2 separate regions of the Homo sapiens genome follow, and region 1 is linked to region 2. The links come from fine-mapping of genetic effects on gene expression. A gene starts in region 2. The other region holds a variant in brackets. All regions are shown on one strand. Distances are between the middles of the regions.

What was found.
Region 1: its variant is fine-mapped to the expression of ITGA3 in adrenal gland (GTEx, PIP 0.98).

Annotation. Positions count from the first base shown.
Region 1 is chr17:50,030,498-50,039,498 of GRCh38, reverse strand. No RefSeq gene overlaps it. Among named protein-coding and RNA genes, the nearest start is that of PICART1, 21 kb to the left of the region's middle. RefSeq lists an enhancer at 4,142-4,938. The variant C/T (reference allele first, on the strand shown) is at 3,931.
Region 2 is chr17:50,052,946-50,060,948 of GRCh38, reverse strand. It overlaps ITGA3 (integrin subunit alpha 3), which reads right to left and starts at 4,839. Exons shown (of 26, transcript NM_002204.4): 1 at 4,304-4,839. The coding sequence starts at 4,509. PICART1 (p53 inducible cancer associated RNA transcript 1) reads left to right here and starts at 5,210. Exons shown (of 3, transcript NR_038230.1): 1 at 5,210-5,320; 2 at 7,322-7,456. RefSeq lists a silencer at 4,766-4,905 and an enhancer at 5,885-6,411.

The DNA of each region.
Region 1 (9,001 bases), 22 kb after region 2:
GAGGCAGAGGTGGTAGGGATCCAAACACAGTGTTCAGAGGGGACTACCCTGCCACTTCTTTCCTCAGCTCTAGGAACGGGAGCTTCTCCTCTCCCTGGACTCCCTGACCTGAGTCCTAGGAATTCCCAGATTCTCCCTGATCCATCCTGGAGCCCCTGACTGCTTCACTGCTTCCAGAGAGGATGCTGGGGGCCCTCGTCCACCCCAGCTGTGTTTATGTCCCTCTTCCTGGAAGTGGGATAGGCACCAGCCTGGCCAGGCTGGTGGGTGTGGGAGGAAGGCACCGGATCTGGGGGCCTATGATAATCCTGGCAGTGGGGGCAAGAGTGGGTGAAGCAGGTTGGCCTGATCAGGGCCAGTCAGGCTGGAGCAGAGTGTCTTGTCCCGTCCCAAGGTGCCTTCTTCCAGAACAGCTCTGTTTCTCCCAGGCCATGAGAAACACACCTGGAGCTTGGAGCTGAGGGAACTTGGAGAAGGAAAACTGGCCTTTAAGTCTTAAAAGTCTTAGTCATACTGGTTACCATTTGTTGAGTACTTACTACATATTCTACCTTATGCTAAGTGCTTTGCATGCATATCTCATCTGATGCTCAAAAAAATCCTCATTTCCCCATTTGACAGATGAGGAAACTGAGCCTTAGAGGATTTCAATACCTTGCTCAATATTATCCAAGGAAGTGGGTCAAAGGAGTCTCATGAAACTAGATTTGAAATCAAGTTCTGGACAAGGGAGTAAGATTGGAGAAGCACATACAACTGCCTTCTTCCAGCTTTCCTGCTCCAGAGCCCAACCCAGCGCAGCCCTGCATCCACAGCCTCTCTCAGGGCCCTAGGAGTGGGGACAGGGAGCACCTTGAGATGACCTCAAAATTCCCAGCTGCCTGGTATGGTAAGTGTTCAGAGACTTCTTTCAAACGACATCCTTGTCTCAATCTAAGGCCACAGGAGAGGGGGAAATGTCAGGAAAGGTAGAGAGGCCATGCCTGCTCCAGGCTTCTGCTAAGGCAGGGAAGGGGACCCCAAGAAGTTTAGGGATATCCACCAGGGTTGGGCCCTTGGACAGGGTGACAGCAGGCAGAAGCTCTCCAGGAGGGGATGCAGCAGAGCAGGGTGAGGAGCACCATTAACTACCTAAAGGGCAGACCCATTCATTGCCATCCCAGAACCATGGAAGGGGTTCCTGGAAGGGCAGAAGCTAGATTTCAGAAAGAACATCCATTAACAAAGGATTCTGTGCCTGAGAGAGAAGGCTTGGGATCTCCAGGCTGGAGGAGATGCTGGCTGGCCTGGAGGCCGGGGGGATGGCTGAGATGGTGCAGCCACATTACAAGTATGGTTCTCCTGTCTGTGGCCAAACCCAGTCAAGGACCCAGCAGTCTGGACCCCTATATCCTTAATGTTGTCTCAGCTCGGAGGCAGAGGGATGGACACTGTGGCCTCCTCCCATAAGCCTTCTGGGTTGCAGGAGAGAGTTGGCTGGGGAGAAGGAGCATCATTAATTCCCCCAAATATTTACAGTGTTCCTAGTGCTGGGCCTGCAGCCAAGGCCCTTGGGTCAGGCCCTGTGCTGTGTCCATTACTCATGTCTCACTCAGGCGAGCAGGCCTTGGACACAGGGAGGGGTGGCCAGAGGAGGCAGGAGCCTGGGAGGCGGTGCAGGAGAACAGTAGCCCGCTGCCTGCCCCGATCCCTCCCCCAGCCCACCCGCCTGGCAGGAATCTGGCTGCACCCCAGATGCTTATGGCCTGCTCTCCAACGAGAGGTAGAGAAGCAAAGGGCGGGGAGCAGTCTCTCTTGCCTTGCTCTTCCAGGCTGCTGAGATGGGGGTGGGAGCAGTCTCTCTTGTCTCCCTGGCTCAGATTATCCAGCCACCAAGAATGGGGTCTCCCCCAGGGCCAGGCTGGGTCAGACAAGCTGCTGCCTGCCTTACATCCTGGGCGGGAAGCGGTCCCTAGAGGCAGAGCCGACAGGAAAAAATACTCAAGGAGCTTGACAGGAGTGGGGACACTGCCCTGGGCCCGCCAGCCACCTCCCAGGGCACACAGCCACATCCCATACCCAAACTACTGGAGGGTTTGGGGAGGCTGCAGCGGCCCCTGGACAATCAGCCCTGTGCTGCCCCTCCCAAGCTGGGCAGCCGGGCCCCACTCCCAGGACCCTGCCCAAGTCCCTCTTGGAGTCTTCTCCCCTGCTCCACCGACTCTGCCTCCATGACCCACCTCCTTCTCCTATTCCTGTCTCCCTCTGTCTCTCTGTCCCCCTCTTTCTTCATCTCTCATGTCTGCACAGACAGGGTGGGACAGGAATCCAGGTGCCACTCACTGAAAAGAGGTTTGGTGGGAGGAAGAGAACCAGGCCAGGTGAAGCAGTGGCTGACGTCCTTGGAGTGTCAAGAGCCCAGGCCCTCAGCCTTCCCTGCCCTTTGCAGGCCCCCACCCCTGCCCTGGGAGGTTTGGGGTGGAAACGTAGGAACAAACAGCCTCCCTCTCCCCCTCGACGTGGTTTAAGCAGATAAACCTGGACTTCAACCAAGCCTCTCCTGAGTCGGTAAACACCTGCTCCCTTGCCCCATAAGGCACCTGAGGACAATGAGGGACACTGTCTCATCTGCCCCCTGGGGAGTCCTCATTCTGCCTCCAGGCCAGCCCGGGAGGGGCCGTCAGCCTGAGAGACTCTAGGCCCCTTGGGACAAAGGGCTCTTGTAAAGGACGGGACCCCTACTCACTCACCACCTCTCCTCCCCTGAACAGGGCTTTCCAGGCTGGGACTGGATCACAGGGGAGAGTGGGAGCTGAGAGGCAGAGAGGGGTCCCAAATTCTTGCCCATCCAGGATGGGGCAACCGGCTGGTCCTTCCACACCTTTTGCAAGTCCTGAGCCAGGGCAGGGAGGGCAGGTCCACCCTGGCATCAGGGCTTTGGAGGGCAGTGCGGCCATCATGGGAGAGCTAAACACCCCTGCCCAGCCCCAAGCTCTCCTTTTCCTCTCCCAGCTTCTGGAAGATCCTCTGTCTGTCCCTGGCTCCTACTCTCTGCCACCGTCTTTCCCTCCCTCAGGAAGTCTTCTAGGAGGCAGCAGGCTGCGGGGAGCTGATACTGCGGGCCAGGGAGATGAGCAGGGAGAAAAGTTTACCCACACGATCTCATTTGCCTCTCACCATTTGGAGACTGCAGAGATTCTGAAGCCTTGGATTGGGCTGACCTCACCTGTCATGGAGCTTTCCCAAGGAGAGCTTGGGGCTGGGCAGAGGTGCATGGAGCTCTTCTCTGGTTGGCCTAAGTGCTGGTGAGCAGCTACCCTGCTCAAAGTCCATGTGAGGCTCCCTGAGGAGGACAGCCTGCAGAGCCCATCCACCCTGCTACTCAGATACCAGTCAGTGCTCGGGGGAGACAGGCAGGGCAGGGCCCCACTCAGGCTGGGAGACAGGACTCAGTATGGTCTGTGTGCTGGGGGGTTGGGGATGGAGATGAGGAAGGAGACAGCCTCTTTGATAAGGACATCTGGGAAGGCTGGCTGGAGGAGGTGGCATCTGGAGATAAGCCTTGATGAGGAGGGTTCCATCAAAGCAGTCTCCCATTTCTCTTAGGGGCTATGTTCACCACTGCTCCTCCCCCAGCCTGGAGCCTCCTTCACCACCAGGAGCAAAGCAGCTCCTAGCACTCCTGCCAGCTCCCCCAGAGTGCTGGCCTCTTCTCCCCCCAGCCCATGACCTCCCAGCTGTGCAGCTTTGGGTATGTGGTGGAGCCTCTCCAGGCCTCAGCTGTGCACTACAGTCACTAAAGTGCCACCTCCTGCAGTTTTCCTGCTGGTGGACTGCGGTCATGCTGGCGACAGCTCAGTCAGAGGTGAGGCCCAGCCCGATCAAAGCCTTCAGAATCTTTGCCGCCTCCAAATGGTGAGAGGCAGATGATATTATGGGTAAACCTCCTTC[C/T]CCCCCCTCACCTCCCTGGCCTTCAGTATCAGCTGCTCCTTGATGTGTTGCAATCAGCAGGCCACTAGTTCCTGGCTGCTCAGGGCCAGATGATTCTATCCTTGGGGACTGGGACCTGCGTGGAATCCCTTGCCTCTTTTGGGGGTCAGAATCCTTCCATCCAAGGACAAGTCTGGGTGGGGAATGGGTGGGGTGGGGAGAGCTCTCCTTCAAGCCTCCAGATGTCAGTAAGGAAAATCACCATGGCTTTTTCTAGCCACTTCGGCCTTTGGCCTCCAACATTCTCCATGAGTTTGTGTTCATGTCTGGCCAGCGGGGCTGACCTTCTGCAGCCCTGAGCTAGTGTGGGCAGGGGCTTGGAGAAAGTTCGCTGGGCTGGGTTGGCCCTAAACCACATCTAATTTCCCCTGCTGCTTTTGTGGGAAAACCAAGGCTCCGTCACCTGGGTACCTGAGTCCTCCAAACCTGCAGGCTCTCCTTCCACCCTCACATTTAGAAGACACACCCAGGCCAGGCGCAGTGGGAATCCCAGCATTTTGGGAGGCCAAGGCGGGCGGATCACTTGAGGTCTGGAGTTTGAAGTCAGGAGTTTGAGATCAGCCTGGCCAACATGGCAAAACCTCGTCTCTACTAACAATACAAAAATTAGCCAGGCATGGTGGCGGGTGGCTGTAGTCCCAGCTACTCGGGAGGCTGAGGCAGAAGAATCACTTGAACAAGGGAGGTGGAGGTTGCAGTGAGCTGAGATTGCGCCACTGCACTCCAACCTTGGTGACGGAGTGAGAGTCTGGCTCAAAGAAAACAACACATACTCGAGTGGCGTTGAGTGTTGCCCTCACCCCGGCCTCCCTGACCTGTCCTTGCTGCATTCCCACTGCCCTCTGCCTCTCACCTGTGGGCTGTTTGCTCCGAACTGTGTCAGCCCAGGTGTGGAATGCAGCCCCCCTTCCCTTTAATTCCTCCCTAAATACTCTTCACCCAAGGCAGTGAGGGTGGGGGATCATTCCTGAGGGATGGGGGTGATGGAGAAGAAGGGGCTACTTTTCCACCCAGCTCCCAAGCCCATGTTTCCACCTCCCTCTGGTTGCCTACCACTTATTGTCTTGGTTTTCAATCTCTCTTCGTCTCTATCTCTATCTGTCTGTCTCTCTCTCTCCACATCTGTCCTCAGGAATTCTCTCCTGAGTGGTCTCCTGAAACCGAGAGTTCTCCCAAGCTATTAGTTAGATAGATCCTTTCTCTCTCTCTCTCTCTCTCTCTCTCTCTCTCTCTCTCTCTCTCTCTCTCTGTTTCACATCCCAAGAGAGCCCAGCAAGGTATTTCCTAGTTCTGCTGCCAGCTTTTGCAATAACGTGTGTGTGTGCGTGTGTGTGCGCATGTGTGTGTGTTTTCTATTCCACACAGTTGGGGAAAGTAAACCCCAGAAAGAGATCGCTTGCCCAGAACCTTACAGAGTGAGGAACGAAGAAGGAATAAGAACCTAAGACTTTTAACTTCCTGCGTAAGAACTGCGTGACTCTGGGCAAGTTAATGAGTCTCTCTGGGCCACCATTTTATTTTATTTTAATGGAAATATTTAATTGAAGTGTAACGCATAGACAGAAAAGTGGATGGATTTTCACCAAATGGACACACCTGTGTAACCAGAACCCAGGTTGGGAAATATATTTCCAGCATCCCCCAAGCCCTTTTATATCTCCTCCCAATTTCTTCCTTCTTAGAAGGTAGCAATCATCTTGACTTCTACCACCATAGGTTCGTTTTGCTGGTTTTTTAACTTTTCATCAGCAGAATCGTAGAATATGTGTTCTTTTGTGTCTGGCAGTTTTTGCTCAACATTAAGCCTATGACATTCGCCCATCTTGTTTCTTGTACTTACAGTTTGTTTCTTTGCATTGCTGGACACCCTCGTATGAATACGCCACCATTTATTTATTCATTCTACTGCTGATGGACATCTGGATTTTTTCAGTTTAGGACTGTTGACAATAGTGCTGTGGTGAACATTCTTTTGCATGTTTTTTGGGGCACAATGAATACTTTTCTGTTGGATACAGGCCCAGATATGGACTTGCTAGTCATAGGGGCTGCGTATGCTTAGCTTTAGTTGGTGCTGTCATAAAGTTTTCCAAAGCGGTTGTGCCAACCCACGCTCCTGCCAGCTGGTACAAGAGCCCCATTTGCTGCACACCCCTGCCAATCTTCAGAAGTCAGTCTTTTTCATTTTAGCTCATTGTAGCTTTTGCATTTCCCTAGTGACTTATGATATCGAGCGTCTTTCCATATGACTACAGGGCATTTGGAAAGCCTTATTGTGGCGGGGTTGTTCACGTTGCCTGCCCATTTCTACTGAGTTATCTGTCTCTTTCCTGTTGATCTATTAGTGTTCTTTATATGCTCTGGATACAAGCCTTTTGTGGTGCAAATTTCTCCTGCAACTCTGCAGCTTTCCTTTTCACTTTCTTTTTATTTATTTATTTATTTATTTATTTATTGAGACAGTTTCGCTTTTGTTGCGCAGGCTGAAGTGCAATGGCGCGATCTCGGCTAACTGCAACCTCTGCCTCCCAGGTTCAAGGAGGTCCTGCCTCAGTCTCCCAACTAGCTGGGATTACAGGCATGCACCACCACGCCCAGCTAATTTTGTATTTTTAGTAGAGATGGGGTTTCACCATGTTGGTCAGGCTGGTCTCGAACTCCTGACCTCAGGTGATCCACCTGCCTTGCTCCCAAAGTGCTGGGATTACAGGCGTGAGCCACCATGCCCGGCCCCTTTTCACTTTCTTAATGGTGACTTTTGATCAACAGAAGTTCTAATTTTATTTTATTTTGATTATAAAGATAGGGTCTTGCTCTCTCACCCAGGCTGGAGTGCTGCGGCACAATCATAGCTCACTGCAGCCTTGAACTCGTGGCCTCGGGTAATCCTTCTGACTCAATCTCCCAAGTAGCTGGGACTATAGGCACACACCACAGTGCCCGGCTTAGAAGTTCTAAATTTCATGGAGAATAATTTATCAAGTTTTTTTTCTTTATGGCTAGAACTTTTTGTGTCCTGTTTAGGAAATTTAGCTACCCAGAAGGCTGAGGCAGGAGGATCGCTTGAGCCCAGGAGTTCGAGACCAGCCTGAGCAATGTGGTGAAATCCAGTCTCTACAAAAAAAAAATACAAAAATTAGCCTGGCATGGTGGCATCTGCCTATAGTCCCAGCTACTCAGGAGGCTGAGGTAGAGGTGGAAAGATTGCTTGAGCCTGGGAGGTTGATGCTGCAGCGAGCTAGGATTGCACTAATGCACTCCAGCCTGGGTGACAGAGCAAGACCCTATCTCAACAAACAAACAAACAAACAAACAACAACAAAATTTTGCCTACCCAAGGTCATGAATATATTCTGTTTTTTTCTAGTGGTTTTACCTTTTATATTTAGATATATATTCCATGTAGAATTTTATGTTTGTGTATGATGTGACATAGGGATCAAGATACCTTTTTTCCACATGAATATCCAATTGCCCAGCACCATTTATTGGAAAGACTATCCTTTCCCCAGTATAGCTGAGCAGTATCATCTTTGTTAGAAATCAAATAATCACATCTGGGTGGATTCACTTCAAGGCTCTCTATTCTGTCCCACAGGCTCTCTATTCTGTCCTTGCACTAATACCATGTTGTCTTAATATCTAGTACTGGAAGTCTTACAGCTGTGCTCTACTTGAAGAAAGTCTTGGCTATTCTTGATCCTTTCCATTTCCATACAAATTTTAGAATCAACTTATCGATTTCTGCACACACACACACACACACACACATTCCTGCCAGGATTTTGATTGGAATTGCATTGAATCTATAGATTGATTTGGGGAGGATTTACAAGGTGGAGCTTTCCAATCCATGAACACTAATTTAGATTATCTTTAAATTTTTTTATTTTTTGAGGCAAGATCTTACTCTGTCACCCAGGCTGGACTGTAGTGGCACAGTCATGGCTCACTGCAGTGTCGACCTCCTGCGCTGAAGTGATTCTCCCACCTCAGCCTCTTACAGGCACACGCCACCACACCAGACTAATTTTTCTATTTTTTGTGGAGATGGGGTTTCACTATGTTGCACAGGCTGGTCACAAACTCCTGGGCTCAAGTGATCTGCCCGCCTCCACCTCCCAAAGGGTTAGGATTATAGGCATGAGCCACCATGCCTGGCCTAGATATTTTTAAGTATTTATCAAAGATGTTTTGAAGTTTTCTGTGTAGTGAGGGAGCTTTCACTGTTTGGGTTAGATTTATTTTTAGGTATTTGATATTTTTATGATGTATAAATGATGTTGTCCTTTTAATTCCTTTCCCTAATTGTACATTGGTAGAAAAACATTTGATTCGTTCCTTTTTTTTTTTTTTTTTCACTTTTAGAGACAGGGTCTCACTATGTTGCCCAGGCTGGACTCAAACTCTTAGGCTCAAGGAATCCTCCTGCCTCAGCCTCTCTACTAGCTGGGACCACAGACATGGGTTACCACATCCGGCTTAGTAATTCTAATTTCAATGGAGAAAAATTTATCAAGTTTTTTCCTTTATGGTTAGTACTTTCTGTGTCCTATTTAGGAAATCTTGTTATTCAGGAGGCTGAGGCAGGAGGATTGCTTGAGCCCAGGAGTCCAAGGCCAGACTAGGCAACATAGTGAGACCGCATCTCTATTTAAAGGAAAAAAAAAAAAAGAAATCTTTGCCTACCCCAGCAACATTTGATTTTTTATACTGATTTTGTATCCAGTGAGCTTACTCAATTTACTTATTTATTCTAACAGCTTGTCTGTATATTTTGGGGGATTTTGTCTATGGGCCACTATGTCATCTAAATACTGGCAGTTTTCTTTCTCCCTTTACAATTCTCACAATGTTTCTTGTGCCTTATTCCCTTGCCTGAGGCCTCCCTTGTAGGGTAGTGCTGGATGGAGTGGTAACAGTGGGCTCCTCAGCTGCCTCCTGATCGTAGTAGAAAGCTTTGAATATTTCACCACTCAACCTAATGGAGTGTGTGTGTGTGTATTTCAGATAATCTTCATAGTACTACTTT
Region 2 (8,003 bases):
GGAGAATCCTGAAGGTGAGAGGGACCTTACTGTATGCAAATGAAATGCAAATTAGTACACAAATGAGCAATTCTGCCAGCCACCTGCTTTTAGGTCTGGTCCAGATCACAAAATCCAAAAGCTGACCCCTTCCAGAGCAGTACTGAACCCATCCCCTCAGCTGCAGCCAGAAGGAGGGAGAGTAGGTGGAGGGATGCCTAGATGGAGCTCTTAGAGCAAGGAAGATAGGAGATGGGACTGCCCCTCTCCTGGAGTCAGGCTGGACTGGGGGGAGCAGAGACCCCCAGCCCCCCAGATGGAGTGGGATGGGTGAAGTGACTACTCAAGGGCTTTCCAACAGCTGCCTCCTCACCCTCCCATTGGCTCCAGCCAAACAGCCCCTCTTGGCCTCTGCGGAGCCCCTTGAGCTCCAAGTTCCGAAAAAGCCCTTCCTTACCCCTGCCCTATCACTCCCCTTGGGGCAGTTCAGAGCTAATGGAACAGCCAAGGAGAAAGCAGAAGAATCAAAGAAGGGCGCGGCACAGTACCCAGGAGAATTCAGGGTACCAGGTTGGCTCACCTCAAAGAGGAGAAGGCCCCTGGGGGCACTGGGGTGGGGTAATGCTCAGAGAAGCAGCCTGTAAGATTCACCTTCCCAGATTCTGTCACCTCAGGGAGGCACTTGGTGGCTCCATGGGAGGATTCCAGAGGGGGCCAAAGGATCTAGCACTCAGGCCAACATGGCAGGGCCTCACTCCTTGGGTACCTAGCCTCCTGTGTTCCCCTCCTATCCCCGGCCGGGAGGCAGGTGGGGAGGGTGCCTGCTCCACCTCTGAGCCCCAGAGAAGGGGTGGGGGCAGCTCTGGGATGCCTGGATCCCAGCTCTATGCCAGCCTTGCTGCCCGAATTAGCCATCTCCCCAGAGGCCGGCCCTGTGGCAGCTGAAACTGCAGCCCTCCCCATCCTTCCTGACCCTTCCCTTGCTGCCCACCCAGCCCCCTCTCCCCACTGGTGACTCAGCCCTAGAACCAGAGCAACAAGCTGGAGGGAGAGAGAGAATGAGAAAGGACAGGAAAAAGAGCCCTGGCTAAGCCTCAGATAAAAAAAGAACAAGGCCATTTTTCTCAGTTCTGCTCCCTTTCCTTGGCTCTTCAGTATTTTTCCTGTATTTGACCCCCGAGGGCATTCTAAGTGTCATCTAACCTCAATTCCTCTTACTGCAAAGGGGATCTTCTTCCTTCTTTGTTTACTTCTGACCAAGCCCCCTTCGCTGCTGCTTTTTCTACAAGATCAGGCTTCCCCTACTCCTGCCCAGTTGAAAGCCTCTTGGCCTAGACTGGTCACTGGGTAGAGCCAGAGGAAAAAGATACTACACGAGCAGGCCTTCTGCCTCCAGCCACAGCTGCTGTGCCCATTTCTGCTGGCACGAACCTTGAAGGCTGCCAGGCACCTGCTTTGCCCAGGGAAACATGATGTTAGGAGAGCATGGCAGGTGAGCCTGGCTCCTGCGTACCTCAGGCATGACCTCATTTCTAGGAGCCACCCTGCCCTGGGCTTCCCAGATACCCTCATTTCCAAGCAAAAGTGAAAGAGAGAGAAGGACCGGCAGTATCCCCATAGGCCCACAGGGTCAGGCCAGACCAGAATGCCTGGATTCCCAGGAGGGAATGTCAGTGCAGGTGCTGGAGCAGAGAGGGTGTCAGTAACCACCTCCCAGAGAACAGTCCCTGTCCCTCCAAGGAACCCCTCATGCATCTTGCCAAGAAGCCCAGAGCACTTTGGTCCTCTGCCTGCTCCTTACCCCTCATTTCCACAGACTAGGAGACTGGGCCCTGGGTTGGGGCTAGCCCCCTATGTTGTGGACCAGGAACCCCAGTCCAGAGATGAAGGTGATGGGGCAGCAAAGAGGGTCCCACCCCTGGGTTTCTAACCATTTCTGAGGCCTTATGAATGGAGAACAAGAAAGCTGTGCTCTCCCCTCCTCCCACCCCCAGGGCAGTGGACAAATACTACGATTTTGGGTACACTTTCAGGGAGTCCCTGCATCTCTTGAAAACCTTCTACGAACCCCAGTTTAAGAGCCTGTCCAAGACCACGAACCATCCCACTTTTCCAAAGAGACTTTCAGGCTAACAGAATATGAGGCTGCAGCTCGTCTTACTAGTTAGTTCCTCTGAGTTGTGCACTCAGGCAGCTGTTTGCATCTGGCTACACAGCTGGCTGCAGCTAAGCCCAGCTGGCTCTCCCAAATGGCCGAGGGGTCGAATTTAGTGAGATGAAGAGAAGGGCCAAGACACAGAACCACCCTTAGGAAAGACTGAGGATACTCAAGGGAGAGAACTGCCCCTCAGAGGTTCATTAGCTTTAGAACCTTCTGGGCTCTTGGCAGGCTGAATGCCAGCTCCAGCTTCCCAGACAGAAAAGTAGAACCCCTTTGCTCAGCCACCCTGGGCGGGGCCCATGGGTAATGAGGATGCATCCAGGTTCTGGCCTCAGCGCAAGAGCCTTCAGGTGCTCCTTGGAGAAAGGCACATGTGCAGAGGATTTTACGCACTTTATCTCGTTACAGCCCCACTAACATCCCAGCAGAAGGCATGCTGTTCCCCTCCCTCCAACATGTGCGGAAATTCAGGTTCAGGTATTGGTAACAGATCTGAGACAGGACACTGGCCATGGGACCTCCAAGCCTCTTCTCCCTCTACCATATCAAGTTGCTTCTCACAGGCCAGCAGCAGTGGGAAAGAGCACTAGATCCAGGTCCAACCCGTTTTGGGGGAAACCTGGCCCAGGGAGGGGAAATATCTTGCTCAAGGTCACCAGGCAAAAGGGTTGCGGAATCATTATTGACTCTTTCTTTCCAGTCTGATCTCTTTACCTATGTTATCTTATATCATGCAGATTTGGCATTGAAAGTCTGAAAATCTTTTTCTCAGTTAGGGCAGAAAGAGCTGATGTAGAAACTTGTGCTCATGGTGGCTCAGGATCTCCAAAAGATAGAGGGTTGGCTAAGGCCAGGTGGCAGCTGCTGGGGCCAGGCTGGGAAGGGTGTGGTAGCCCTAGCCTCTGCAAGAGCAAGATGGAGTTGAGGTTAAGTCCAGGTAGGTAGGCTGGGTCAGGAGGGCAGAACCAAGGCGGGGGCAGAGTTTGGACTTTGGACATTCTAAACTTCCTCAAGCTCTGCAGGCCCCAGCCAGAGCAGGGAGATTTTCCAGTGTACCCTGGATGTGACCACGTCTTCTTGTTCAGTGGGGTCAGAGGCCAGGTGGGGGCAGAGGCTAGGTGGGGGCAGATGCCTGGCAGATCGCCCAGCCCAAAGTGGTGGATGGTACCTGCTTAACCTGTCCTAAACACCGTCCCTCTTTGGACAGCTTCACCTCCCCCAACCGCCAACCTCCGCGCGCTCTGAGGCCACGGCAGAGAGACCTCTGAAGCCTGGACATGCTCCTGGGCATGAGGGCGTCTGGTGGAGTGAGGGGGACCCAGGAGGCTGGGTGCAACCTCCTCCTCCTTCCTCCACTGTGCATAGCTCTTCCCCTCCTCCTTGCAGCTGTTGGGGAAGGAGAACAGAAGAAAGAGAAAAACACTGTTTCCCTCTTCAAACCAAAACAAACACACTCAGGGTTGAAGATCCAACACGAATCTGTGGAATGCAGGGAAGATGTCTGCGGGGAGAGTGCCACTGCTTGCGGGTGGGCAGGAGGAGACCCAGCCAGAGTTGGGACAAGTCCTCCTCTCTCTTTCACCGCCCCTATCCTCAAGGCGTCAGAGGGAGCGTATGGACAGCTCCAAACGCCCAGACTCACCCATCGCCTCACCCTCCATCCGCCAAGCCAGCGGTTGAGAAGGCCATCCAGTCTGGCTCTGCAGAGGGTGTGGCTGGCGTGGCCGCAGACTACCAGCGAGGTGCTTAAATGTATATGCTCATTTTTCCCCCAAGCGTACGGGAAGGGGGGAGTCCGCTGGGTGTTTATCTTGCAGTTTACCCCAGCTCCCAGCCCTGGAGAGAACAGGCTAGTGCTGGGTACTCGGTTCACAGAATGGGAGAGGACTCAGCCACCGGGACCCCACTTCCGCTCTCATGAGAGATCTAAAGGGCGGAGGGGTGGCGTCCAGACAGGTTCTGGCCCCGTCAGCACTTGCCAATGATTACTGCCCGACCCCACACCCAATCCTCCACTTCCCGCCAACCCCCAGCAGCCAGAGGGCCGCCCCTTAATCCTGGCTCCCAAGGGCCAGCTGCCCTGGGCTCCGACTCAGCTCCGGACCCGCATCCCGCGCTCGCACACTCTCTCGCTCCCACCCCACACCCTCCAGCTTCACTTACAGGTAGCGCTGCTGCCGCTCTGTCTGCCGATGGAGGGCGACCGAGTAGCCGAAGAGGCTGCCCGGGTTCCCGGCCTCCTTCACTACCAGGAATCGGGTATCCAGGTTGAAGGCGGAGACGACGCAGCCGCCGGCCGCCACCATCAAGGCGAGCGCACAGAGCATCAGGCGTGGGGCGCGGGGCGCGCGGCTGGGGCCGGGGCCCATGGCTGCCAGCGGAAGCGGGGTCCCGGCGAGAGCGCGTGAGGGCGCGGAGCTGGGCGTGAGGACCTGTTCACCTGCTCCCCGCGCCGCCGGAGGACACTGGAACCCGCCGGCCGCTGCGCTCCGTAGCGCTGATCGGTTTCGTGCCCCCAGCCCCAGCCAGTTTCACAGCTGCGCTCTCGGATCCCTTCCTAAGATCCGTGGGTCTATCTTCCTGCCTCCCCAGCGGCCGGGTCGCCGCCGTCCCTGCCCCGGGCAACCGGCCCCCAGCTTGTCCCGGCCGCGCCCCCTTGGCCGCGCTGTCGCCTTCGATCCCGGCTTCGCGGCGGATCTGGCAAGCGCACCGGTCGACCGCAAGGAGGACAGGAGGGAGGGGTCCCCCGGCGCGCGCCCCGCCTCCCCACGCCCAGTCCCGCACCTCCCCACCTTGCGAGCCCAGCCCGGGCTGCGCTTTCCTTCCGGGGAAAGAGAAAAAGATCCCGGCTCGGCCGCCTCCTCTTAAAGGGGCAGCACCGCCCCTCCCTCCTCATCCTCCCTACCCCAGCTCCGCCTTCTCCCCCAAACACCTGTCGGCAACCCCCAAAGGCTTAGATTTCCCCTCCCCGCCCCTCGCTTCTCCGAGAAAGCGTCGCCTGGGGAGCAAGATGGATGTGACGGGCGGGGCCGGGGGTGGGATTTGTCTGGCCGCTTTCCTGCGGCTGCTGCTGCTGCTGCTGAAAAGGCCAGCCGGGCTGGAGAGACCTGGCATTGGCGCATCTGGGAACCGACGTCCGTGCGCGGCTGGCTAGAATGCTGGACTCGCCTCCGCAGCGCTGTGAGTCCCCAAGAGGTGGCTGGCGGTCTCTGGGAGTTCTTCCTCGCACTCAGGCCCCTCGCTGTCTTTGCCGAGATTTATTTCTCCTATCCACTCACCCTGATCCGAGCTGAGATTGGCTCCTCAGCAAAGACAGACATATTTAGCAGTGGTAACAACCAAATGTCGCTAATTATAATTACCAAAAAGCATTTTTCCCCCTAAGTGCTGCGACTTCTGGTATCAAAGGCTAAGACTGTCAATGTAGAAATGAGTCCGTCCTTCACAGAACGCACTGCGTAGCCGGGAAGCTGAGCCTAGACCGTATCCATTTCTCGTCCACTCCTGCCTTCAGGGCCCAGCCCAGCAGAATCCCAGAGGCTCCCTCTTCCCACCCAAGCTCGAACAGAGTGTTTGGAGACTGGGCTCGGACGTCAGCACCCATCAGGTGTTTGGTGGGTAGGGCCAGGTGGCAGTAAGTGGGCGGAGACTAAAGGTCTCCTCCACCAAGGAATCAAATCGAAAGGGAACTTCAAGAGGTTACTCTGGCCAGGCGCAGTGGTTCACGCCTGTAATCCCAGCACTTTGGGAACCCGGGGAGGGCGGATCACGAAGTCAGGAGTTCGAGACCAGCCTGGCCAATGTGGGGAAACCCTGTCTCTACTAAAAAAATACAAAAATTAGCCGGTCGTGGTGGCGGGCGCCTGTAGTTCCAGCTATTTGGGAGGCTGGGGCAGGAGAATCGCTTGAACCCGGGAGGCGCAGGTTGCAGTGAGCCGAGATCGCGCCACTGCACTCCAGCCTGGGTGACAGAGTGAGACGTCGTCTCAAAAAAAAAAAAGAGGTTACTATGTACTTTCTTGGATCTAACTCACATTTCTCTTATTGCAGCTCAGAGACCCATTTTCCCCGGAACATTGTTTTTTTGTTTTGTTTTGTTTTGTTTTTGAGACGACGGAGTCTCGCTCTGTCTCCCAGGCTGGAGTGCAGTGGCGCGATCTCCGCTCACTGCAACCTCTGCCTCCGGGGTTCAAGCGATTCTCCTGCCTCAGCCTCCTGAGTAGCTGGGATTACAGGCGCCCACCACCATGCCCGGCTAATTTTTGTATTTTTAGTAGAGACGGGGTTTCGCCGTGTTGGTCAGGCTGGTCTCGAACTCCTGACCTCGTGATCCACCCCGCCGCCTCCCAAAGTGCTGGGATTACAGGCGTGAGCCACCCTGCCTGGCCTCCCCGAGCATTCTTTTCTCCATCTATTCTTAAAATAATAAGAACAAAACACCATGTATTAAGCACATACGCAGCAGGAACTATGCTAAATGCTTCACAAATGTTAAATCCTCACAACAATCTTTGAAGTGTTATCTCTGTTTTAAAACGAGAAAAATGAGGCTCAGGGAGGTTAGGCAATTTGGCAGAGGTCACACAACTAGGATTTTCATCCTGTGTTATCTGACCCTGGAGCCCTTAACTACTTATGCTAATAATGAACATTTATACACTACTTTGGGCGTGTCCAAGTTTGGTGGGTCCTGAAGCTTGTGCAATCTGGGGTGCTCTTTAAGAATAAAATTATTTTGTACTCATAAGAATTATGAGTACAAAATTAGATTCAGAGCCTGGGAAAGGGTCCTGGCCTAGCTTTACAGTTTACAAATCATTTCACAAGCAGGCTCATTTTATCCTCCTGGCCTCCCTGTGAGGTGGGGATTATGATATTCATTTGACTTAGGAGAAAACAGAGCCTCAGGAGGTTACCTGCCTGTCCAAGATCTGAATTTTATGGGAGGCAGAGCTAGGACTGAAGCCGCTGACCACAACCGTGTCTTTAAGAAGACAAACTCCAGGCAGATGGTTGTCAGACAGCTAGACATGCCTAAACAAAAGCAGCTGTGATAACAGCTTTCTCTGTGGTGTTTGGGGAGAAGACACTTGTCTCTAACGGCCCTTAGAACAGGATTTGTTCCTGACCTCTGACTTCCAGAGCCACCCAGCCTCTCTCATGGTCTGCTTTGTGGCCCAGGGCCTGCAGGGATTAGAAGACATGTGGGGTCAAGGAACAGGAAGCTGACCTGGATGGAAGTTGAACAGTGATCTTTGCTCTCTGCCTGGCTCCTGAGTCCTCTGCCATGTTCCTGGAGAAGAGGAGCCAGCCAGGGTAAGAAGGGCAGGGGCTTAGGGTGGAAACGCCATGTGGGTGAGGATCCTGCCTGAAACAGCTTTGAGAGTCCTGCGATGACAGATTGGCCCCATGCCAGGCCTTATCTCTTTGGACATCCCAAACAGGAATGACCAGCATGTCCGATCCTGGGACTGGGAGCCGGAAAGGGATGAGGGATGGTTTTTCCACTCCAGGGGAGTGTCCAGAGGGAATGTGGAGCAGAGCAGGGGCGACTGGTAGGGGGAGGGCCTGAGCTAAAGAATGTGGGGGAGTGTCAGACCAGTCTGGGGAGATGGAGTGGGAGTGGAGGGAGACATGGAGACTAGAAGGATCTCAGCTGGAGAGATGGAGAAAGAGAAATCTCAGGGTTCTTTGGTTTCAGTGGCACCGTCGTCTGTAGGATCATCTCATCCCTCAGTTGACTTTATCATGTCAACTCTTTATCTGTCAACCCTCCCCCATGGGGAAGAGACCCACCTAGAAACACACAGACAGACAGAGAAACAAGGACACAGGAATAATATGTGTAATGAGGAGTCTAAGT